Linked DNA regions of Homo sapiens. The protein of the gene in region 5 purifies or fractionates together with the protein of the main gene of each other region. This does not show direct contact. Each region holds a gene or a part of one and is shown on either strand. Other genes may lie near its edges. The genes, in order: AMY1C, NUP214, PIGR, DHCR7, PLEKHG6, KRT81 and TMOD2.

The links.
Region 1: the proteins of PLEKHG6 (region 5) and AMY1C purify together in Homo sapiens (affinity purification with mass spectrometry, with the first as the bait; 2 studies listed by BioGRID). This does not show direct contact.
Region 2: the proteins of PLEKHG6 (region 5) and NUP214 purify together in Homo sapiens (affinity purification with mass spectrometry; one large-scale study listed by BioGRID and IntAct). This does not show direct contact.
Region 3: the proteins of PLEKHG6 (region 5) and PIGR purify together in Homo sapiens (affinity purification with mass spectrometry; one large-scale study listed by BioGRID and IntAct). This does not show direct contact.
Region 4: the proteins of PLEKHG6 (region 5) and DHCR7 purify together in Homo sapiens (affinity purification with mass spectrometry, with the first as the bait; one large-scale study listed by BioGRID). This does not show direct contact.
Region 6: the proteins of PLEKHG6 (region 5) and KRT81 purify together in Homo sapiens (affinity purification with mass spectrometry; one large-scale study listed by BioGRID and IntAct). This does not show direct contact.
Region 7: the proteins of PLEKHG6 (region 5) and TMOD2 purify together in Homo sapiens (affinity purification with mass spectrometry; one large-scale study listed by BioGRID and IntAct). This does not show direct contact.

The regions. Positions count from the first base shown.
Region 1 is NC_000001.11:103,756,045-103,759,192, reverse strand, and holds the end of AMY1C (alpha-amylase 1C precursor), read right to left. Parts: intron 2,399-3,148; coding exon 2,280-2,398; intron 2,170-2,279; coding exon 2,044-2,169; intron 725-2,043; coding exon 535-724; 3' UTR 501-534; downstream 1-500. UniProt on the Homo sapiens protein: Calcium-binding enzyme that initiates starch digestion in the oral cavity.
Region 2 is NC_000009.12:131,128,586-131,132,085, reverse strand, and holds part of NUP214 (nuclear pore complex protein Nup214), read right to left. Parts: intron 2,808-3,500; coding exon 2,609-2,807; intron 1,321-2,608; coding exon 1,250-1,320; intron 1-1,249. UniProt on the Homo sapiens protein: Part of the nuclear pore complex. Has a critical role in nucleocytoplasmic transport.
Region 3 is NC_000001.11:206,932,967-206,936,466, reverse strand, and holds part of PIGR (polymeric immunoglobulin receptor precursor), read left to right. Parts: intron 1-648; coding exon 649-981; intron 982-1,720; coding exon 1,721-2,047; intron 2,048-3,300; coding exon 3,301-3,481; intron 3,482-3,500.
Region 4 is NC_000011.10:71,433,911-71,436,152, forward strand, and holds the end of DHCR7 (7-dehydrocholesterol reductase), read right to left. Parts: intron 2,064-2,242; coding exon of another isoform or gene 1,930-2,063; coding exon 1,465-1,929; 3' UTR 1,281-1,464; coding exon of another isoform or gene 1,200-1,280; 3' UTR 501-1,199; downstream 1-500. UniProt on the Homo sapiens protein: Oxidoreductase that catalyzes the last step of the cholesterol synthesis pathway, which transforms cholesta-5,7-dien-3beta-ol (7-dehydrocholesterol,7-DHC) into cholesterol by reducing the C7-C8 double bond of its sterol core.
Region 5 is NC_000012.12:6,317,182-6,320,681, forward strand, and holds part of PLEKHG6 (pleckstrin homology domain-containing family G member 6), read left to right. Parts: intron 1-121; coding exon 122-232; intron 233-317; coding exon of another isoform or gene 318-365; coding exon 366-515; intron 516-675; coding exon 676-813; intron 814-1,119; coding exon 1,120-1,239; intron 1,240-1,563; coding exon 1,564-1,696; coding exon of another isoform or gene 1,697-1,776; exon of another isoform or gene 1,777-1,792; intron 1,793-1,811; coding exon 1,812-1,927; intron 1,928-2,389; exon of another isoform or gene 2,390-2,492; intron 2,493-3,500. UniProt on the Homo sapiens protein: Guanine nucleotide exchange factor activating the small GTPase RHOA, which, in turn, induces myosin filament formation. Also activates RHOG. Does not activate RAC1, or to a much lower extent than RHOA and RHOG.
Region 6 is NC_000012.12:52,288,735-52,292,946, reverse strand, and holds the start of KRT81 (keratin, type II cuticular Hb1), read left to right. Parts: upstream 1-1,412; 5' UTR 1,413-1,481; coding exon 1,482-1,850; intron 1,851-2,660; coding exon 2,661-2,869; intron 2,870-3,671; coding exon 3,672-3,732; intron 3,733-4,212.
Region 7 is NC_000015.10:51,813,730-51,816,863, reverse strand, and holds the end of TMOD2 (tropomodulin-2), read right to left. Parts: 3' UTR 501-3,134; downstream 1-500. UniProt on the Homo sapiens protein: Blocks the elongation and depolymerization of the actin filaments at the pointed end. The Tmod/TM complex contributes to the formation of the short actin protofilament, which in turn defines the geometry of the membrane skeleton.

The DNA.
Region 1 (3,148 bases), on a different chromosome or scaffold from region 5:
GATTGACCATAAAAATATGTAAATAAGACAACTAAAAATAAATTTACATGCAAGGTGTGTAGGAACACTTAAATGTGTTTGTGGTAAAAGATTATAAAAAGGCATAAAAATGTAAATGTTGCCTATGGAAAAAGGATTCTTTTGAAACCTATGTAAGGGTAAAATTTGGCTTTCCTTCCCTTGTACAGATTTTTCATGTAATAGAGAAGAATAATGAAATATTTGGTTTGCCTTGTTGGTAGAATGCCAAGGAGAGAAAAGAGTAGACAGGAGACAAACTGTTTGGAAAGCTAAGTCTTACCTCTTAATGAGTAAAGATTGTTGCCTAGTTTTAAAATTTTTGAGTCATCCTTTTGCCAAAATAAATAACTTATGTGTAACCTGGAATTGTATTTCATACTATCAAGTGTCTTAAACCTCTTTTTACTAATTAGAGCTTTTATTTAAAATTAATGATATGTAACTATTACTGTATATGTAAGAAAAGAAACACACTTAGCTATTGCTTTGCGGATTTGCATTTAATTTTAAATTTTACAATTTAGATTCAGCATGAATTGCAATAAATGGATCTTCAGCAGAGTTACTAATAGAAAAATGAGCTTTGCCATCATCAGAAACGTAGATTTTAATGCCTGTGCAGTTGCCATTAATTTTATCTCCAGAAATGACATCACAGTATGTGCCAGCAGGAAGACCAGTTTGCAAAGTTAAAGAAAATGTCCTGTAAAATAAAATTTCAGATTTAACTTCAAAACAATGAAATCAAGAATACAGACTAACACAAATAAACAGCATAACTTTATGTTTTAGAACCCTAAGCAGTGAAGTCTCATTAAGAAGAAAACCCATATGCCTCCCTAGTAGGTGTAAACAGCTTTCTAGGACCAAAAGTAACCTTACAGAAAACCTACCAATTTCCTTTTCAGTAGTGAAAATATAACCGAAAAATCAAAGTTGAAGAATATCACCGAAGATTGGCGGGAGCGGTCACATTTTGATAAAGTGCTACCTTGGTAAAATCAAATTTTTTCTCAACTGAACTTAATGCCAATTACTTTAAAAATTTAAAGGGTATTATTTTTTTAACCTTCTTTTATTCTACATGAGGTCAAAAAGAATTTAGGGTGTACATAAAAACAATCTAGCATTTGTATGAGGAAGTGATAGTTTGAAATATAAAGCTTTTTCACAAAAGATTTTTTTGGTATTTTCATCCACAAAAGAAGGAAACTAAGGAAATAGACACGCATTTTTTTGGCAGGAAAGAGATCAACTTGACTTATATATTTTTGTATTTATTTATTTTTCATAAGTGAAGTATAATTTATACTAGAGTGAGCTAAGTATGAGTGTCAGTTGGCCTTGGACAGAGACAATTCAACTGTTTGCAAGGAGGTCTTCTCAGCTACAGTTTCGGGAATCATTTATACTACAGCCAAAGGATACAAAAATCACAGATGAAAGGCCAATAATGAGAAGTTTCAGAACTAAAACTCAAGTCTCCTGAAGCAAATCATTAACCACAAGATACATATTATTTATCCATATGCTTTAAAAATGTTATTTGTCACAAGGAGACAGAGAAGTGAAGAAAGTATACCAAAAAACTAGGTAGAGCTGTCATTGAGAAAAAGAGAAATAAAGATATTTTAGTACTGAGGCAGCATTTTTCCATGATTAAAAGAGCAGGACTATAAGAAACGTTCTTTTAATGATTTCACAATCCTTCTATTAATTACTTTGTGTATTTTGTGGCATGTGTAGGTAAGCATATGAATGTGCATTCTATATATGCATAAGATATTGCAAGGGTGCACAGAAAGGATTCTGCTTACAACAGAAAGCCCTTATGAAAACAGGAGAACGAAGGAGTAACAGCCATCATCCTTTTGCTTCTACCCAATTTTGATCTCTATTGTCTTCTCGCTCCACTGACTACATGATTTTTCAGATATGATAAATGTCAATGAACAGAAAAAAAAAAGAATAAACCAAGAACATACTGGTACAAAATATTATTTTTAATTGATATTTACTTACCAGTCATCATTGTTGAAAACAATGAATCCTCTGTTTCCTCTCCCAAAAGCCACTTGGTTGCTCCCATTATCATACCAGTTTGTAAAAGGCTGGCCATCCACTACATTGCGGAAATTAACCATGTTCCTAAAAACACAATACCATATAAAACGTTGATATTCTTAAACTTCAACTGTTTTAAATAAAGTGCTACGGAAATTTACTATTAGAGGACATGTCTAAATACATATTCTCACCTTATTTGGCGCCATCGATGTTCACAGACCCAGTCATTGCCACAAGTAGTGTCTGGATTAATAGTAACTTCTTTAGTTACTCCATTATCATTTGGTGGCCCAACCCAATCATTAACATCCTTAATTACAGGAGGAAAAGCCAAATTTTAGCATATATATATTTATCTCTTCCTTCTCCTTTAAACCAAACCCAACCTATCCTGTTACTTGTGTCTCTGCATTCAGTGACTTTATCTAGAATCCAATGCCTTCATTGATTTTTATAGCCCTTTACTGGGTCTTCATCATCTCTCTATCCTCTGGTTCTCTTTTGCCATATTTCAAACAAAGGTAGCAAATTGTTATCCTCTCCTTTTCATTCCAAGGCACTGCAAAGACTTCTTTGCTCTGTCACCCAGGCTGGAGTACAGTGGCATGATCGTAGCTCACTGCAGCCTTGATCTCCGAGGCTCAAGCGAACCTCCCATCTCAGCCTCCCAAGTAGCTAAGACTGTTGGTGTGCACCACCGCACCCAGCTAATTTTTTTTTTTTTTTTAATTTTCAGTAGAGGCAAGGTCTTGCTAGCTTGCCCAGATAGGTCTTGAACTCCTCAGGTCAGCTGACCTTCTCAGCTGGCCGCACACAGTGCTGGGATTATAGGTGTGAGCCACTGCACCTGGCCTGCAAGGGCTTCTTAACATCACTGTAAGCCATGCAATGGCATTGAAATGGGAAGGGCATTAGTACTAGAAACACCAGGATTAAAACATAGGCTCTATTACTAGTAGCTGAGAAAATTTAATCAATATAAATAATTTCTCTGTGTCTCAGTTTCCTCATTTGTAAAATGAGAATAATGAGTTCTTTTGCTATAAAAATTAAGTAATAT
Region 2 (3,500 bases), on a different chromosome or scaffold from region 5:
CATGTTCAGATATAGGTAATGAGAGTAGTCAATGCAACACCATTTGCAGCAGCAACGCCACTAGCACTGATGCAGACAATCATCAATAGTGGAATAAGGCTGGGCGAGGTGGCTCATGTCTGTAATCCCAGCACTTTGGAAGGCCAAGGTGGGCACACTGCTTGAGCCCAGGAGTTTGAGACCAGCCTGGGCAACATGGCAAAACCCTATCTCTACAAAAAATACAAAAATTAGCTGTGCATGGTGGCAAGTGCCTGTAGTCTCAGCTACCCGGGAGGCTGAAGTGGAAGGATCACCTGAGCCCAGGAGGCTGAGGCTGCAGTGAACCATTACGTTATCACACCATTGCACCCCAGCCTGGGCAACAGAGCAAGACCATCTCTCAAAAAAAAATAATAATAAATAAATAAAAAATTAAGGCAAACAGCAAAGCAAGAAAATTTAAAAAATTGCATTATCTTTTTACAGGTTAGTGTCCTAAAAGATTATGTACCAAATTTCAGGTAACTTTTGGTAATAACAAATAAGAAACATAACCTTAACCTTAAACCTATACCACCTACATTCACCACTCTGCTCCCCTCCTCGCCAGAGAACAGTCTTGAGGAGGAAGGCACAAGAAAGGCCTTAGCACCACCTGTGAATCCCTCCTTCGTGTCCAGGCTCAATAGACATATGGGGGTTCCTTGCAACTCAATTGATATTGAAGGATATTTGTGAACATTATTTCAAGAAATTCACAGGGAGGATGACAGAGTGCACATGCAACAAGAGTATCCATTTTCTTTGGTGCCCATAGTTAGACAAACAGACCTTTAAAGACAGACTCAGTTAAAAGACAAATACTGTGCTTTAACCCAGAGTGATTCTGCATTATCATCATAGTTTTTTCACTAACTCTTTTCCCTTGAGCTGTTTTTATGGAATGGACTGAAAAAGGTGGGGAACAGCGCATAGCGTATGATCACATTTTACATAAAAACAACAACAAAAAAAAAGCAGCTACCCATAGACTATTTGTATAACATCCAGAAAAGTATGGAAGGCTATCTACTCAACACAACATAGTGGGTGCCTCTGGAAGAAGGACTATGGGAAAGGGAAGAGTTCCACTCTTCATTCACTGATGGATTTGTTACAATGAGTATAAATTACTTTTTAATAGGAAAAACAAGAAAGATACTCCCAAACCACCCCCAAAAAAGTGGGCAACTTAAGAAAAATTCTGAAGTTCAAGATAAGAACTTACAGGAAGATACTGGACCACAGTTCCATTCTGTTTTCCCACTGCCAGCTGCTTTCCTTTGGGGCTCCAGCACACTGAGCAAAGACAGTATTACCAAATGAAAACAAGAAAATGGAGCAAACCAATAAGATCTATCACACACAGCTAATTATCAATTCTCATTCCTCTGTCAGTCCATGGAAGATTGTAGGATCATCTCTATCAGGCAAAGTGGAAAAAAGTAAAATCATTTTAACGATATAAGCCAATTGATTTATCACTGGGCTATTGAATTGAAAGCTAAAAATGCTTTTTCAATAGATTACTGCCCAGAAAGCTGCAAAATACAGAAAACTCTGTAGTCTTTACATAAGACAAGGAGAACAGAGAAGGTTTCCAAATACCAAGAAATCACTGGCCGGGCACAGTGGCTCATGCCTGTAATCCCAGCACTTTGGGAGGATGAGACGGACGGATCACTTGAGGTCAGAAGTTCAAGACCAGCCTGGCCAACATGGTGAAACCCCGTCTCTACTAAAATATACAAAAATTAGCTGGGCATGGTGGCAGGCACCTGTAATCCCAACTACTCTGGAGTCTGAGGCAAGAGAATTGCTTGAACCCAGCAGGTGGAGGTTGCAGTGAGCTGAGATCGCGCCACTGCACTCCAGCCTGGGCGACAGAGCAAGACTCTGTCTCAAAAAAAAAACAAAAAAAAAAAAACAAAACCAGAAATCATTCTCCTGCTCCCATTTAATATTTAAAATGCTTTTCCGCCCAAAGGTACAAATGACTTTCAGAGTACCACCGTTACAGATCCAGAAACAATTATTCCCAAAAAACACTTCTAAACCAGCTGTACCAAAATATTTCTCCAGAAATCCCAAGTACATTCAGGTTAAATTATGTATGCTGTTTGGCTTCAAGGACATTAACTATGGGTATAAAGAATACTCTCAGCCGGGCACAGTGCCTCACACCTGTAATCCTAGCATATGCGGGGTGGAGGAGGGCAGATCACTTGAGGTCAGGAGTTCAAGACCAGCCTGGCCAACATGGTGAAACCTTGTCTCTACAAAAAATACAAAAATTAGCTGGGCATGGTGGCGCATGTCTATAATCCCAGCTATTTGGGTGGCCGAGGCACGAGAATTGCTTGAACCCAGGAGGTGGAGGTTGCAGTGGCTGAGATGATGCCACTGTACTCCAGCCTGGGCGACACAGTGAGACTGTCTCAAAAAAGAATACCTTCCATCCTTAACCTCCCTCGTCATGAAAAAAAAAACCAAAACACAAAAAGCTATCCACTTTCACTTCTAGAAATCAATTCTTAAGTAGATGACCATGATTGTATGCTACAGTGTGAAAGCCTTTATTACTCACCAGAGGTTACTGCTACCGTGGAAGGAAGAGTTGCACATACTTTCACTGTTTCCGTGACTTGCAGGACAGCAATACTACCATCAGCCAGACAAACTGCCACCATGGAGGGGACAGTGGGGTTCCACTTCATATCAATCACCATGCCTCCTGCATCTTTCAAAAGCTTATGATAGGCAAATGGGCGTTTTTGCTGTTTAGCCTTTTAAAACAAATATGCAAAAGTGAAATAAGTTAACAAATAGTAAATGCAGAAACATTTAATATTCAATGGAAATTACTGAATACACAAGGTATCTCAAATCAGTTTATTTTTCTCCATAACCATAAAAAAAGATTGTTTTATGCATCAATCTATTTGCTATAGACAATTTCAACACAACTTTGAAAATGGCAATCAATTATTCTAACATGCTTAGGGGGACTCTCAGAAGGGGAATGCACAATTGCAAAATAACCAATAAATAGCAGACAATAGATTAAAATCTTGGCTCTGCTTCTTAATAATGTTGGGACCTTGGACAGTTACTTAAACTCTGAGCCTGTTTCTCTACCTATAAAATGAAGATAATAGTACCTACTACATAAGGCTGTGGTAGGCATGAACGAGGGACAAGGCATATAAAGCACTTAGTACAGAGTCTAACACACACAGTCAGTATAAACACTCACTATTATTATCATTCTTAAACTGCTTGGAATGGAAGAACATCCAAAATGTAGGAACTTTTGACATTATGTATTCATCTATGACTTTGGGCAAGTCACCTAAGCCTCCTGATAACAACTTAGGGCAGATGGCGTTATGAAAGAATTTCTTGAAGTCCCTTCTGTCTCAAAGATCTATGATTCTATAATTAAGGATTTTTTTTTAACCCATATTTTAATCTAGAGA
Region 3 (3,500 bases), on a different chromosome or scaffold from region 5:
GTATCTGTGCTTGTGACTTTTTTTTTTTAAAGGGGCTTATATTCTCTGCATGCCATGTCCACATCCAGCTCTGGGTTTTCACCAGAATCCCCTGCATCTTTGGTCACCTGCTTCTCTCTGGATCTCAGCTTTAGCTGCCTGGAGAATGGCTATCGTCTTTGAGATGCCCCTTGGGGCCCCAACAATTAAGCTCACCTTTGCTACATACTTTATAGTTTACATCATACCATCCTAAATATATTTTCTTGATTTGGGCATAATCCATTGGGCCACTTTTGTGGAATACACTTGTTAGTGTACTAAATAGACAAAAACCTACACAGAGGGAGACTTTGTAAGAAGCCAAAGAAGAGCTGATATCCTCTCCTTCAACTCCTTCCATTCTCTGCTCAGAATAAGATGGGGGAAAAGAACAACATGTGCAGGCTGATGGGGAGACTCCAAGCCCTTGGAGTCTGGCCCTGATGGCTCCAGCTGCAGGCTCTGTGACATTAGGAAAGCTCCTTTTCATTTTCTGAAGAGGGTAAGGTGATGCGTGTAAACTTCACTCCCCATCCTGGCTGAGACCCCGGGAAGAAGGCTTCTCAGGCCACGCAAGGCTCTTCCTGCGTGGCCATCCTCCCATCCCATCTCTGTCTGTGCTTCCAGAGTCCACGATTCCCCGCAGCCCCACTGTGGTGAAGGGGGTGGCAGGAGGCTCTGTGGCCGTGCTCTGCCCCTACAACCGTAAGGAAAGCAAAAGCATCAAGTACTGGTGTCTCTGGGAAGGGGCCCAGAATGGCCGCTGCCCCCTGCTGGTGGACAGCGAGGGGTGGGTTAAGGCCCAGTACGAGGGCCGCCTCTCCCTGCTGGAGGAGCCAGGCAACGGCACCTTCACTGTCATCCTCAACCAGCTCACCAGCCGGGACGCCGGCTTCTACTGGTGTCTGACCAACGGCGATACTCTCTGGAGGACCACCGTGGAGATCAAGATTATCGAAGGTAGGAGTTGACAGGGAGGGAGAAAGCTCTAAAACCTCTCCAGCCAGCAGCAGCATCCCCAACCACTCTTCCTCCTTTTTCACCCGCCTCCACCCTGATGGGCCAGACCTCAGGAGGGAGCCCACCTATCCAGAGGTCACATTTTCATGCCTATAACACGCACCTTACACTCTGAATTACCATACATGGTACCTCCTACTACCAAGAACATGGGCTTCTTTCGCAGTGTGCAGGCATCAGCTGAAGTCAAGGATTGCAGATACCTCTTTGTATTGAGTCTAGAAGAGAAGGAAGAGTGAGGAAAGCAAACTGAAGTCCATGTGTGAAGATCTATGGTCTATGGTAGACTCTGGATTGATCATGGTGCTCATCAATAATAATTATTACCTAGGCACACAATTACATTTCTTCTGTAGTCAGAATAACATACTTATTTCTAATGCTATCCAAAGAGGATATGTAGACTGAACATGGTGGTGCATGCCTGTAATCTCAGCACCTTGGGAGGCCAAGACAGGAAGATTGCTTGAGCCCAGGAGATGGAGGCTGCAGTGAGCTATGATCGCACCACTACCCTCCAGCCTGGGTGACAGAGAGAGACCTTGTCTCAAAAACAAAAACAAAAATATATATATATATGTATATGACATGTGGACAAAGATTCCCACCAGAGTCACTTCCCTGCAGCATCTCCAAGTACCAACTTCTGTGTTTATTTCTACCTCCCTCCCTCCTCCAGGAGAACCAAACCTCAAGGTACCAGGGAATGTCACGGCTGTGCTGGGAGAGACTCTCAAGGTCCCCTGTCACTTTCCATGCAAATTCTCCTCGTACGAGAAATACTGGTGCAAGTGGAATAACACGGGCTGCCAGGCCCTGCCCAGCCAAGACGAAGGCCCCAGCAAGGCCTTCGTGAACTGTGACGAGAACAGCCGGCTTGTCTCCCTGACCCTGAACCTGGTGACCAGGGCTGATGAGGGCTGGTACTGGTGTGGAGTGAAGCAGGGCCACTTCTATGGAGAGACTGCAGCCGTCTATGTGGCAGTTGAAGAGAGGAAGGCAGCGGGTGAGTCTCCAAGGACAGGGCCTGCACCCCTCAGACCCAGAGGCAGGACTTCCTGAAGGCCCCTGCCTGAGAGCTTCTCAATCAGTGCTGGCCCCTATGTTTGGCTGTAAGAGGCTGAAAGTGGAGAGTGGGAAGGGAGGGGACATTTAGGTCCTATATAGCCTCGTTGAGCCCTTCAAAAGGGACATCTCAAATAAACATACCAACTAAGTAAAAATAGTGGGTTTGCTATTTAACCTCGGCATTAAGACAACTCCCAGCTGAATGTGGTGGCTCACACCTGTAATCCCAGCACTTTGGGAGGCCGAGGTAGGCAGATCACTTGAGGCCAGGAGTTCAACACCAGCCTGGCTGACATGGAGAAAACTCGTCTCTACTAAAAATACAAAAATTAGCTGGGCATGGTGGTGTAATCCCAGCTATTTGGGTGGCTGAGGCATGAGAATTGCTTGAACCCAAGAGGCAGGGGTTGCAGTGAACTGAGATCGTGCCACCACACTCTAGCCTAGGCAACAGAGCTAGATTCCATTTCAAAAAAAAAAAAAAGACAAGTCCCATAGTTGCCACTTCAACCCAGATTGAAGTCTCTTCTATATCTGGAAATATTCTTCTCTGTATAGAAGAATAATATGCATACATCACTGTCATATGCAATATGTTCATCCCCCTTCCCCCTGCCAAAGCTCGCCCTCGAAAGAGGGCCAGATACCTTCATTTACAAGGTCTGATCAGGAAAATTAGGAAACATCTAGTAAATTTGCATTTCAAGTCCCCTTTTAAAATTTCACATGAAATGTTTTAGCCCTAATAAGGGTATTTGTAGTCCCTCAAGAAATCCTATTGGGTCTGGACCCTGCGGATGGGACTCACTGAGGGGCCCATCGCCAGGCTACCTCCAGGGGGCAGCACTATCATACCCAGCTGGGCAGTCAGGAAGCCTGGGGCAGCGTCTCAGAGCCTTGAAAATCTCCCGGGCATAAGTGATGGGTCAGCCTTTATGCACAGCTGGTCTATGACACGAAGCCTTGAAGGTCCCCACTATACTTTTGGTAGTAATGGGGCAGAGATCATCTGTGACAGCTGAAGAAGGCCATCACAGCTGTTTCTAATGTCATCCTGGGTCCTACCCCAACAGCCTTGAGATCGAACCCTGACCCTGTGATTCCTCATGAAGTCTCCCCCAGACTCCTTCACCTCGAGGAGTAAGAGCATAGAGAAAAATCACAACCCAGGCCCACTCTTCCCTGCTGCAGGGTCCCGCGATGTCAGCCTAGCGAAGGCAGACGCTGCTCCTGATGAGAAGGTGCTAGACTCTGGTTTTCGGGAGATTGAGAACAAAGCCATTCAGGATCCCAGGCTTTTTGCAGAGGAAAAGGCGGTGGCAGATACAAGAGATCAAGCCGATGGGAGCAGAGCATCTGTGGATTCCGGCAGGTAAGGAAGGATTCAAGGC
Region 4 (2,242 bases), on a different chromosome or scaffold from region 5:
AGGGCTCAGCAGTCAGCCTGGGCGGGTCACAGTTCCGATACCCTCCAGGCTGTCTGGGAGGCGGCCTGGCTGTGGGACCAGTTCTCATGTGAAGCAATGAAGCCACTCTGAGCTTGGCCCCCTGCCCTGGCATGGGCACTGGGCTGCCTGTGTGAAACTCTTGTTTCTCCAGGTGCAAGACAAACCTGGCACTCTTTCTGGCTTCTCCATTCACTTGCCGGGGGCAGGTGGCCAAGCCTGGTTTCATCTCCTTGGGGGGGAATGGAATACTCTCCACATTCAACCCAAAAACAGCCCCAGCAAAGGGCTGACATGGGAGGGAGAGGGGCAGGGTGGCGCCACGCACCCACGGGCACCCAATGCTTTGACGCCGAGACCCAAGCATCTCTCTCAGACATCCCTTCTCATACCAGAAACAGAGCCCACGTATACCAGTCAGACCTGCAGTCAGGCCCATTCACGAGTCAGGCCCATTCACCAGTCAGAAACCACACAGCCACTTATTTGAACAGGGGAAGTTTAATATAAAGATGAACTCTACTCGGAGCATAGAGTTTAAAAAGAGTTCTACACAACACCCTAGGGATGAGGAAGAATGCCTCAGGGAAGAAAGCACAGAAAAGGAGGTGCCCTCCCGAGGCTGGGACTGAGACCTCCTCGCTGGAGAAGGTGTGGGAGGCCCCTGAGGGTGAAGTTCCCCGGGTTGCTCGAGCCAGAGTCTGCACAGTCATAGGGCAAGCAGAAAATTCTTTCGAGAGGGTGGGCGCTCACAGGGAATCGGGAAGCAGAGCCCACCTGCCTACACCTGAAAGGCCACAGCCGGTGCTGGGACCTCTCTGAGGTCTGCAGACTCCAGGCAGAGCACTCCTGGCAGCTGTGCAGCAGGAGCAGGAAGGAAACGACATGAAAGCCCCTTTCTCCCCAGTGTCCCAGTTCAACACCGTGCACGCTACCAAGGAGAAACGGCGCACGGGCCCCACCCACGACTGCAGAGCAGGCAGGGGAGGGGGATCTAGAGCTGAAAGGCAATACATGGATAACGCGCACGCCCCACTCCCACTTTTATTTAGCAAGAGTAAATGCAGCCTAATGACAGGGCGTGGGAAGACCTCCTGCTCACCAGTGTGGGCAGAGTGTAGCGTGGCCTGGGCTCCTAATACAGGTAAATTGTCTCCAAAGGACTAGTAAAGGTGACTGGGTCATCCTCCTGCCCCAGGGACACTGATTAGAGAAAATCCGTCTGTGCTGGCAATACGGCAGTGCTGGACACTCGGAATTCCCTTGAAGGCAAAAGCAAGGAACAGAGCGTGATTAGGTACTGGACACCTGCCAAGTGCTGGGCTCTCTCCAGTTTACAGATGAGGAAACTGAGGCTCCTCGAGTTGGAGCTGGGATGCCAGCCCCCATGGACCTGGCAGAACACGCTCTTGACAGCCCCACAGGGCTTCTCCCTAGGGCGTGCCCTTAGAAGATTCCAGGCAGCAGGCGGTAAGGCACTGCGGCGGTGTAGCGCTCCCAGTCCCGGCCGTACTTGCTGGCGCAGCGGTGCTCGTCCCGGAGGCAGCGGTGGGTCAGCAGGATGGCCATGTAGATGATGTAGAAGTAGGGCAGCAGGTGGCCGCCGCCACAGGCCAGGCAGTAGGCCAGGCTGCCCATCAGGTCGCCGACGTAGTTGAAGTGGCGGGCCACGCCCCAGAAGCCCGACACCAGCAGCTTGCTGTGGTGCCTCTGCCCATCGGCGGATGTGTAGGAGCACTCGATGACCTTGGGCTTCCTGCCCCAGATGAGGCAGCGCCCATCCGTGCGGCGGAACAGGTCCTTCTGGTGGTTGGCCACCCGGAAGATGTAGTAGCCCACCAGGCCCAGCAGCAGGACGCCCACGGCGTGCGGGGTGGACAGCTGCACGGGGTGGTACACCAAGTACAGACCCTGGGGGGCGAGGGGGAAGGGGTCAAGCGGTGCTTTGCCCAGGGAGAGGACAGGAGTGTGGGCTCGGGGGCCCAGCGGCCTGGGGTCAAACCCCAGCTCTGCCTCTGACACACGCCTTGCCTCCGTGTTCTCTTCTGTGAATAAAAGCACCAACCTTGAGGGCTGTTGTGGTCATTAAATGAGTAACTCTACCTGCCTTCTACCTGTCTGTGTGTGTATGTGTGTGTGTATATATACCCCCTATATATATGACATATAGCATAAACATCAAATATGTAACAGTATTAAAAATATAATCTGAATTTAATATTGT
Region 5 (3,500 bases):
GGAGCTGGGCTAAGGGCCCCTGCGAGGCTCTCTTCACCTGCTCCTGGGTCCTGCAGCTAGAGCCTGTATTCATGGCCTTCTCCCCATGCCTGCTCCCCACCTCCCGTATCTGTCTCTCCAGTTTGGCCAGCGGTTCCACCCCTATGTCCAGTACTGCCTCCGAGTGAAGCAGACCATGGCTTACGCCCGAGAACAGCAAGAAACTAACCCTCTCTTCCATGCCTTCGTGCAGGTGGGAGAAGGGGTGCTGGGGAGGGGGACGGGTGCATCTTAGCCGGCCGGTCTCCAGCTGAGCCTGAGGCTGAGTTCACCACTAGGCAGGGCAGGAGGGAGCAAACCCTGAGCCCCACCCACCTTCCCTGCAGTGGTGTGAGAAGCACAAGCGCTCTGGGAGGCAGATGCTCTGTGACTTGCTTATCAAGCCCCACCAGCGCATCACCAAGTACCCACTGCTGCTCCATGCTGTGCTCAAGAGGAGCCCCGAGGCACGAGCCCAAGAGGCCCTGAATGCCATGGTAGGTGCCCCAGTGGGGCTGGGACTCTGGTGAATCGGGGACTGGGAGGGGGGTCTCTTTCTTAGTGTGTCTGTGACAGTGTGGCGCTGTGCTGTGGCTGGCATTGGTTGGGAGGGGACGGCTGAGCCGTCCCTCCTCCCACACCCCCAACCCCACCTAGATTGAAGCCGTGGAGTCATTCCTGCGACACATCAATGGGCAGGTCCGCCAGGGCGAAGAGCAAGAGAGCTTGGCGGCTGCAGCACAACGCATCGGGCCCTACGAGGTGCTGGAGCCACCCAGTGATGAGGTGGAGAAGGTGAGAGGGCAAAGGGAAGGGACCCAGGAAAAGCAAGGTCCCAGGGATACTGGTGAAGGGGAGGGCTGCAAGGCCAGAACACCCCGTACTTGGGTGCTACAAGGGTGTCCATCATTCCTACCTGGTGGTGACAGTCCAAGGGGTACAGGTCAGAAGAGCAAAAAGGAGGCCCTGGGAGGCTTTCTCTAGCCCATGGGGGAAGGATACAAACAGAAAGGTGTTGGTGGCAGAACCAGGAGCCGCCCTTGGCCAGGAAGTCCAGGCAGACTGCCGAGCGCCCTGACCCCTCCCCTCTGTGTCCCTCAGAACCTGCGCCCATTCTCCACCCTGGACCTGACGTCCCCCATGCTGGGGGTTGCATCTGAGCACACCAGACAGCTGCTGCTGGAGGGGCCTGTGCGAGTGAAGGAGGGACGAGAAGGGAAGGTGAGGGTGCTGCGGACAGAGTGGAGGGGATGGGGCACGGTGGGAGAAGGTAAGAGGCAGAAACGCCGGAAGTGGGAGAAGAGGGGTTTGGGGAAGAGGATGTGGTTCTGGCTAAGCCCCAGTCATTTGTGTGACCCTGAGCCAGCCACTTTGCCTGCCTGTAAAGTGAGAGATGTGACCAAAGCGACGCCCCTGGCCACTCCCGCATTTGGGCTCTGCGTGTGTCCCTGTGTGCCTGCGCACCATGCCTGAGCCTCCTCCCGGACCAGCCCTGCCCCTGGCTCCAGCTGACCCTGTCTCTTTCCCCTACGCCCCCACCCCCAGCTGGACGTGTACCTGTTCCTCTTCTCTGATGTGCTCCTTGTGACCAAGCCCCAGCGCAAGGCGGACAAAGCCAAGGTCATCCGACCCCCTCTCATGCTGGAGAAGCTCGTGTGCCAACCCCTGCGAGACCCCAGTACGTCCTTCCTTCAGGGAGTCTTTTCTTCTCCCTCTTCTCAGCGAGGGGAAGGAGGAGCTGGGACGGAGATCAAATAAAGGCTGGCCTCTTGAAGGTTGTCTCCTCCATCCAGACAGCTTCCTGCTGATCCACCTCACTGAATTCCAGTGTGTCTCCAGCGCCCTCCTTGTGCACTGTCCCAGTCCTACAGACCGTGCCCAGTGGCTGGAGAAGACCCAGCAGGCCCAGGTATGGGAAAGCCAGCAACGGGGAGGCATGGGCAGGGGTCCCCGGAGCTCAGAAATGGGAGCACAGTGGTGGATCACACCTGTAATCTCAGCACTTTGGGAGGCTGAGGCAGGTGGATCACCTGAGGTCAGGAGTTTGAGACCAGCCTGGCCAACATGGTGAAACCCCGTCTCTACTAAAAATACAAAAATTAGCCGGGCGTGGTGGTGTGTGCCTGTAGTCCCCATTACTTGGGAGGCTGAGGCAGGAGAATCACTTGAGCCCGGGAAGTGGAGGTTGCAGTGACCTGAGATCGTGCCACTGCACTCTAGCCTGGGTGACAGAGTGAGACCCTGAAGAAGAAGGAAAAAAAAAAGAATGTAGGAAGGAAGGAAGGAACGAATGAACATGGGAGCGCAGAGGGGAGGAGGAGAGAGGCTGGGGTGGATTCAGTTTCAGACTGGACAATCTGATGTGCCCCAGAGAGGGAGGCAGAGCCTCCACCATCCATCAGAAGACAGAAAAAGCCTTTGGCCAGCTACTGTGCCAGCCACTGGGAGAGCCCAAGATACAGCATCCCCTGAAGGTTTGTACAGCCTGAAATGATTAACTTCTAGAAGTCATCTTCCATTCGCAGACATTTACAGGGCACTTGCTGAGTACGGCAGGCACTAGAGCTAGGTGCTAGGGAATCAGAAAAGAGTAAACCACCATTCCTGCCCTCAAGGCCTAGGTGCTGCAGCCTGGTTGAGTAATTAGTATACAAACAATAGAGAGAAGTTATGTAGAATGAAGCTGGGACAGAGAAGGGAGCAAGGCATTGTCTGCTGGGTCTGTTTGGAAGGGACACAGAGGAGCTGATGTCTGAGCACCATTTGGGAGGATACCTAGGAGTATGTCAGGGAGTCAGGGTGGAAGGGAAGGGCATTCCACATGGAGGAGCAGAACGTGCAAAGGCGGGAACTGTGAAACAGTTGTGTGTGTTGAGAGAACTGCCCCCATTGGTATTGCTACAGTATCAAGTACAAGAGTAGACGCAGCAGGGAGAGGCTAGGGGGTAGGTGCCACCAGGTCATGCCCATCTCTGCATGTCATGATAAAGCATCCTATAGATGAGCTTTGTCCTTTGGATGACAGAGGGCCAGTGAAGGAGTCGGGCAGGGGAGTGATGTGAGCAGATAAAAAGCAGGAGGAGTTCAAAAGAAGAGAGATGCAAATGGAGCTGTATTAGGTCCCACAAACTTGGTGGCCTAAAATGCATCAGAAGCTTACTCTCTCACAGTTCTGGAGGCCAGAAGTTTCAAATCAAGGTGTTGGCAGAGCTGAGTTTCCTCTGGAGGCTCTAGAGGAGAATCCATCCTTGCCTCTTCCAGCTCCTGGTTGCCCCAGGCGTTCCGTGGCTTGTGGTAACAAAATTCCAAACTCTTTCTCTGTCTTCCCATGGCCTTCCTCTCTGTATGTCTCTGTGTCCAAATTTCCCCCTCCTTTCTCTTACAAAGATGTGAGTATTAGATTTCGAGCCCACCCTAAATCCAGGGAGAACTCATCTTGAGCTCTTAGGATCTCTGCAAATCTGCGAAGACTCTTTTTCGAA
Region 6 (4,212 bases), about 46 Mb from region 5:
GAGGCTGGTCTTGAACTCCTGACCTCAGGTGATCCACCCCCCTCAGACTCCCAAAGTGCTGGGATTACAGGTATGAGCCACTGCGCCCAGCTGTGATTCAATTTAGCATCACCAATCTGACATTTTATGCTTCCTGGGGTGATATAATAAGAGTTACACAGCATATTTTATGAAGTATTCTGTCCCAACAATGTTTAATTTAAACCTAATCCAGCCTCTAGCCCAGTGCTGTCCAACAGAATTTTATGTGAAAATAAACAATAAATAAAATAAAAATAAATAATAAAGAAGTGTTCTTTATATGCACTGTCTAATAAGGTAGGCACTACTTACAGGTAGCTGCTGAGGACTCAAAATGTGGATAGTGCAACTGAATAACTAGATTTTTAACTTATTTAGTTTTTACTAACTTAAATTTAAGTAGCCACATCTGCCTATTGTCTACCAAATTGGACATCCCAGCTCAAGATTTACTTTCTAATTTATAGAAAATACAAGGGCTAGAGCCACAAATTAAATTATGTAAAATGTAGTTTTAAAATCCTTAGGACAGTTAGGAAAATTGAATCTGAGATGAATAGTAAGTGGTGCTTTGGAATTATTGTTAATTTTCCTGAATAAGAAAATAGTACTCTCCTTATTCTTAAGAAATTCCTGCTGATGTATTTAAGGGTGACATGCCATGCTTTCTGCCACTCAAATAATTGGGCAACTGTGAAAGCAAATATGGTATAATGTTAACTGTTGAATCGGGGTAAACAGGTGGAGCATCAATGCATGTGTGTTGTATTATTCCAATTTTCCTCAATATTTGAAAGCTTTCATCATAAAAAAGATAAAAGACAAATATTTAATAATCTGCTGACTGTTCCCATGGTAGGAAAAGTGAGATGGTTTTCAGCTGCCAACTGAAAAATCTGGAGATGGGGAAATCCAGATTTGTGTTTCAGGAGCACTTTAGCCACAGCTGTGATGGAAATGAGAGATGGTATTTATTAATGCCTCAGCCTTTCCTGAAACCCCTCTCCCCACATCACACTTAACACACAGGTCTCCTCCTCCCAGTTTCTCCCAGCACCTGGCCTCCCTTCTCTTCCCCTCGCCAGGCTCTACTCCTCCTTCTCGTCCTCTCCTCTGCCTTCCCCTTCCCTCCCCAATGCCTGCAGATGAAGGAATGCCCTGCTGGCAAGACACTTTGAAGATGAAACATGCTGACTCCCCCAGAGCCCAAGACTGACATCTTTTACAAAGAAGAGGGTGCAGGCCACTCCCCCATTAAAGCACATTCTGGAGAGGCGTTAGACCCGGCTAACCACCCAAGCCCATAAAGCGCAAATTGCCCCAACATCATCTTCACAGCCAAGCCCCTTCAGAATCTGCGCATAAATAGGGCTGCGGTGCCCTGAGGAGCACATTGGAGTTTCCATCAGGACTCCAGGTCCCCTATCCTGTCCTCTGCAACCCAAACGTCCAGGAGGATCATGACCTGCGGATCAGGATTTGGTGGGCGCGCCTTCAGCTGCATCTCGGCCTGCGGGCCGCGGCCCGGCCGCTGCTGCATCACCGCCGCCCCCTACCGTGGCATCTCCTGCTACCGCGGCCTCACCGGGGGCTTCGGCAGCCACAGCGTGTGCGGAGGCTTTCGGGCCGGCTCCTGCGGACGCAGCTTCGGCTACCGCTCCGGGGGCGTGTGCGGGCCCAGTCCCCCATGCATCACCACCGTGTCGGTCAACGAGAGCCTCCTCACGCCCCTCAACCTGGAGATCGACCCCAACGCGCAGTGCGTGAAGCAGGAGGAGAAGGAGCAGATCAAGTCCCTCAACAGCAGGTTCGCGGCCTTCATCGACAAGGTGGGTGTCCTGGATCACACCCTTCCTGAACCCCCACCACCTACACAGCCAGGGCCGGGCACTAAGGATGGAGTCAGAGGCACAAAGACCTCTGCCTGCCTGAGATCCCAGTCTGATGGGCGAGGCACACAGACACACAGACAGACAGACACATGCACAGACACACACACACAGGCACTCAAGATGCAGACTCAGCTGACAGTTCAGATAGAGGGAGCTTGTGAAGGAAAAGTGTGGCCAGGCTGCTCTGGGGCACAAGCTAGACATCAGGGAGTTGGGGGAGGGGGGCATGTGACCACTGCTGCTGAACTCAGAGGGGTTTGGGCAGCCCCAGGGTGAGAGAGTAGGGTGCACTGACTTCCAGATGACACAGGGGAAGGGCTGGGACAGCTGAGCTCCCTTCCAGATGGCCTGTGACACCCTCTTCCTGGCACCATCCCCAGAAACCTCATCTGTGATCTGAACCTGAGTACTCTGCCTGTGTGGGTTGCTGATCACCTAGTTTCATAGTGAGGGACTGAGCCTCCACTTCTGTTCATCTGCTTGGGTTGGGGGGGGGGGGTCACTCAACTCCCCAGGGAGCAGGCACTGACACCACCCAGCCCTTGCTCCACTCCTGAGTGGGAAATCTAGACACAGATCATGACCAGGAAATCCAGAAATTGTCTGTCTCCCACTGCCCACCTCTACTCAATCTCAGATAAGCTCCAGATTTGGGGGTTCCCATTAAAGCACCTCCCCTGCGAGCCCCCAGAGCTGGCTTTGGGGCACCAGACACCATCTGCCCCACCTTCCCACACCGAATGGCAGGTGCGCTTCCTGGAGCAGCAGAACAAACTGCTGGAGACAAAGCTGCAGTTCTACCAGAACCGCGAGTGTTGCCAGAGCAACCTGGAGCCCCTGTTTGAGGGCTACATCGAGACTCTGCGGCGGGAGGCCGAGTGCGTGGAGGCCGACAGCGGGAGGCTGGCCTCAGAGCTTAACCACGTGCAGGAGGTGCTGGAGGGCTACAAGAAGAAGTGAGTGCGGGCAAGAGGGATGCTGGGCACAGGAATGGGGTTTAGGTTAAATACACTGGATTAGACAATAAGAACTCCCAGGTAGGGTGAGTGGCCATGACCACTAGATTGACCGAGGGTGGCGGGGTCTTTTCCTTTGTGGAATCTTTGCCCAGACACCTGTGTAAGAGGAGGGCTGTGACTCCCATGACCTGTCTCTGTCCCACTTCAGCCTTCTCTCCCTGAACCACATCACCCAGCAGCTCTCCCCTGCGCTGGGTGGGGAGGAAGCCTCTGCAGGGTCCAGGCCTTCTCTCCTGACCCTCAGCCCCTATACTTGTAGCACCTGTCAGATGTGAGCCCAGGGTCTCTCATGAGTGACAGGTCTTGGGCTCTGGGTGTCCCACTGCCTTAGGTTCTAAGTCCTGAGGGTCTGCGGGTCCAGGAGGCCCCATACCTGAGCTGGGATTGATACCAGTGAGGGGAGGCTAGGGCTACAGGCCCTGAGAGTCCACGCTGTCCACTCCCAGGATGGGGCTGGGGGCTGAGTCCTATTTGCCTCCTGGGGGACCTCAGAGCCCCTTTGGGAACAGGACTGGGAGGTCCCAGATGAGCACTCTCCATCCCCAGTTCAAAGTGGATAGAGAATCCCAGACACATCCCACATCCAACTAGAAAGCACTAAGCTAGGCTGCCAGGCCGGGGCTGTGTGGAGGTGTTTCTAGTACTGTCCCCATGGCTGTGATGAAGTGTGATGTGATGGTGGCTCTGCAGAGACCTGCCCTGCCCTGACCTCCCCTCTCTTCCCTCTGCTCTGTCTCAGGTATGAGGAGGAGGTTTCTCTGAGAGCAACAGCTGAGAACGAGTTTGTGGCTCTGAAGAAGGCAAGTGACACAGGATTGAGAAGCACAGATCTGTGGGATCTCAGAATGACAGATTCTTCCTGGGGACACACAGGGGGTCTCAACCTCAGCGTGGGGCACAATGACCTTTCCACAGCAGGCTAGGACTGCCCAGATGCAGGCCTTTGTATTGAGCATCCAGGGCCTTGACAAAGGGCAATGACTTGGGAATATCTACCAGCACCTACCTTGGGCAAGGGGATGGCTGCACTGTCCTCTGTGTGTCCTGCTCTGTTCCAGAGGTTGTGGTCTATTGCTGAGGCCCCTGGAGCCATAGCAGATACAATGTCTCTGCTGAGAGACAGTGCAGTCTGTCTAGCATTTTGGGGAGTCTGACCTTGAGGCAGAGACACAATCCCAGGGTCTAAGGGGGGATGGAGAAGAACCAGGAGCAGCCACTGGGCTCTTGGAGCACTTGTGGGGGACAGGAAAGGGTCAGGGTGTGAGAGCTGGGGGGTCAGT
Region 7 (3,134 bases), on a different chromosome or scaffold from region 5:
TTAGACACTGGCCCTTTATGTTTCTCAGTTGAACCTTATCAGTCTAAACTGAAATCCAAGGGTCAAAGAGTTGGGACAGAGTTCAGCAGAAGGGCAGGAAGAACAGTTTTTCCTGTTTTTCCAGGGTCAAACCTTTACAACATAACTTCATCATTTTTAGTGTTCAGTATTACAAATTATCAGAAGAGCTTTAAAGAGAATAATAATGTAAATCCAAAATTAGTGTAAAAAATTCAGGGTAAAATAGTCAACCTGTTTGGGCTTTCTGTACTCCTGTTCCCATTCATTCTAACAAATTTTTAACTATTTAGCCAAATGTGTTCATTTTTGTTTGATAACAAGTTATTTCTCTCTGTTATGGCTACTTGCAGTTGTCTTGTTTCTTCATCATAAGGGCATTTAATAGTTTTCTGCAAATGTGCTCATCTAAGAACATGATGCCAACCATTTGTTTTAAAGAAACACTGTCTAAAAATTAGCCATATAAAACCAGTCTTTACTTTTACTTTGAAAGGAAAGTTTATTATTTCCCAATGTTCTTTACATTTTCATTTGGAAATATCATTCCTGACAGAAATAGATACATTATACCTTCGAAAGCAGAAAGATCTTAATTAATTAAAACAGTTTACATTTACCTTAGCATTAGGTCTGGCTGGCTAATTTCAAAGGATTAAAAATTGCACCTATTTGGGCCAACTGGGGTCCTGAATAATTATCCAGGGTAAAAGTATAATATTTCATACTTTATACATTTTGCTTCATCACACATTTACTTTCCACACAGTGTTCAACTTCACATTTAAAAAGCAAATTAGTCTTTAATTCCCTAATGAATATAATAGTCTTGATTTGATTGAAGTTTCAAATGGAAAATAAAACTATGCGGAGTTTTCAATAACTGCTTAGCCCAATAAATGTTGCCAATAGAAGTTTAAACACTTGTTTAAACAGTTTGCAAAGTATTATTTCCTTTATTCTCTTCAAAACAACACAGACACACATAAAGTCACACATTACAGGCATCTGAACTGGTAAAATGTTACAGATTAGTGGCATGCAGGTATTTTACATTTTTAAGTGCAATGAAAAATGCTGCTTATTCATTTTGCTTGAATGGATGAAAACAACTAAAATAAATGCTTAATTAAAATATAACTATTCCATGTATATAAGGGTTTTTGTTTTTAAACCAAAGTGGCAGAGATAAGAATTTTAGGTCAGAATAACTTACTTCTTAACTGAAGATTGTCACTGGCAACATTTGGTACTAAAATAAAATTTCCTCAAAAAGCACATTTCCTATTGATCTCATTTCGTCATATGGCCGATTCCTATCTACTCACAGTTAGATTACCCACAGGAAGTTTTAAATCTTGGGCCAGCCTCTCTCAATTGCACAGTATACTTTTGATTGACTTCTCTCTTTTTCCCAGTCAATACTTACTCAGAAACACACACATACACACACACACACACATTTTAAATAAGAGCCTACAAAAAAATGCTGTGTTTACTATGCTCAGTTTCTTTCTTTGCCTTCCCTCTTCTTCCCCACTGGTTCTGAGGAGCAAGATAGTATATATTTTATTTTATTTTTTGAGATGGAGTTTCGTTCTTGTCACCCAGGCTGGAGTGCAGTGGTGTGATCTCGGCTCACTACAACCTCCACCTCCTGGGTTCAAGCGATTTTCCTGCCTCAGCCTCCCCAGTAGCTGGGATAACAGGCTCTTGCCACAGGGCCCAGCTAATTTCTGTATTTTTAGTAGAGACGGGGTTTCACCATGTTGGCCAGGCTGGTCTTGAACTCCTGACCTCAGGTGATCCACCCACCTTCACCTCCCAAAGTGCTGGGATTACAGGCATGAGCCACTGGGCCCAGCCTAAATAGTATATATTTTTAAATATCCTTTCAGAAAAGGCCGCTTATCCAGAACCATTCTGAAGACAGTAAAGAACTGCTGAAGAGGAAGAAAAAACTGGCTGTGCAATAGTCAGACCTCCTCTGAACAAAGCCTCCTGGAGAGAAACAGCTGCAGTGGAGGCATTACTCACCCATGTTCAGAGGCAACGGAAACGATTTAGAATCACAAGCTTGTCAAGTATTGGAGCTGGAAGGGACCTTAGGGAGCATTGAATCTACTCACTTCATTTTACAGATGAAATGAAGACAAGATAGATGGAGAGTCTTGCCCAAAGTCACATAGAGCTGGCATCCAAATCACTATTGTTTCTCAAAAATATCACATGGTGGCAAATGGAGCATAACTCTGTGGGGCTGGACGACAGCTAAATTCAAGCAACATTTGTTCATTAAGCACCTACTATGTACAAGGCACCTTACAAGATGGTACTGAAGATACAAAGATGGATGAGACACAGTCCTGCCTCCAAGGGCTTATGAAAGTCATTGGAGGCCATGCTTCAAAACCTTTCTTAGCAGAAATATTACTGACCAGGGCTAAGGTTGCTGGTGATAACAAGGCAGCTGCTGCCCTGGAGAGGTGATCTCACAACAGGTGGCACTTTCTCCCCTTCACTATCTATCAGAACTAATGCCTGTTACTCAGCTGCTAGGCATTAAAATTCTTGAAACCCTAAGGACACTCTTCTCTCCTAGGCCTCCAGTCAAACCTGAAGTCTTAGCCTCTCCCACCCACAGCAATGACAGGAGGGCAGTAGCGCTCCAGACCCTCCCCTCAATTCTTAGTCAACTGTTCGCTTTCTCCCTTGTGCCCAGCCTAGGCCCTCTGCAAGGACTGACAATTTCCCAAGGTACTGTCAAAGTGACCCAGGAAAATGTCCTACCATATACATCGCTGGTATCTAACTTCCACTGCCCCATCAACCACCTCTCCCACCTCTACATGGGAGCTGAAATAACTCCAGTCCCTGATGACACACCCAAGCCTCAATTACCCATACTCCAAAAGATGAGAAAGATGTAATGGTTGGTTAGAATAAAGCCGATTCAAGAGGCAGTGGAAAACAGTGATTTGATAATAAAACTGATCTCTCACATTTGTACGGCGCTTTCCAGTTTATATAGTGTTTTTATCCAGTTATCTGATTATATTCTTACCACAACTCTGTGAGGTAGTTAGTGAAGTATTATTCCCATTTTATAGCTGAAG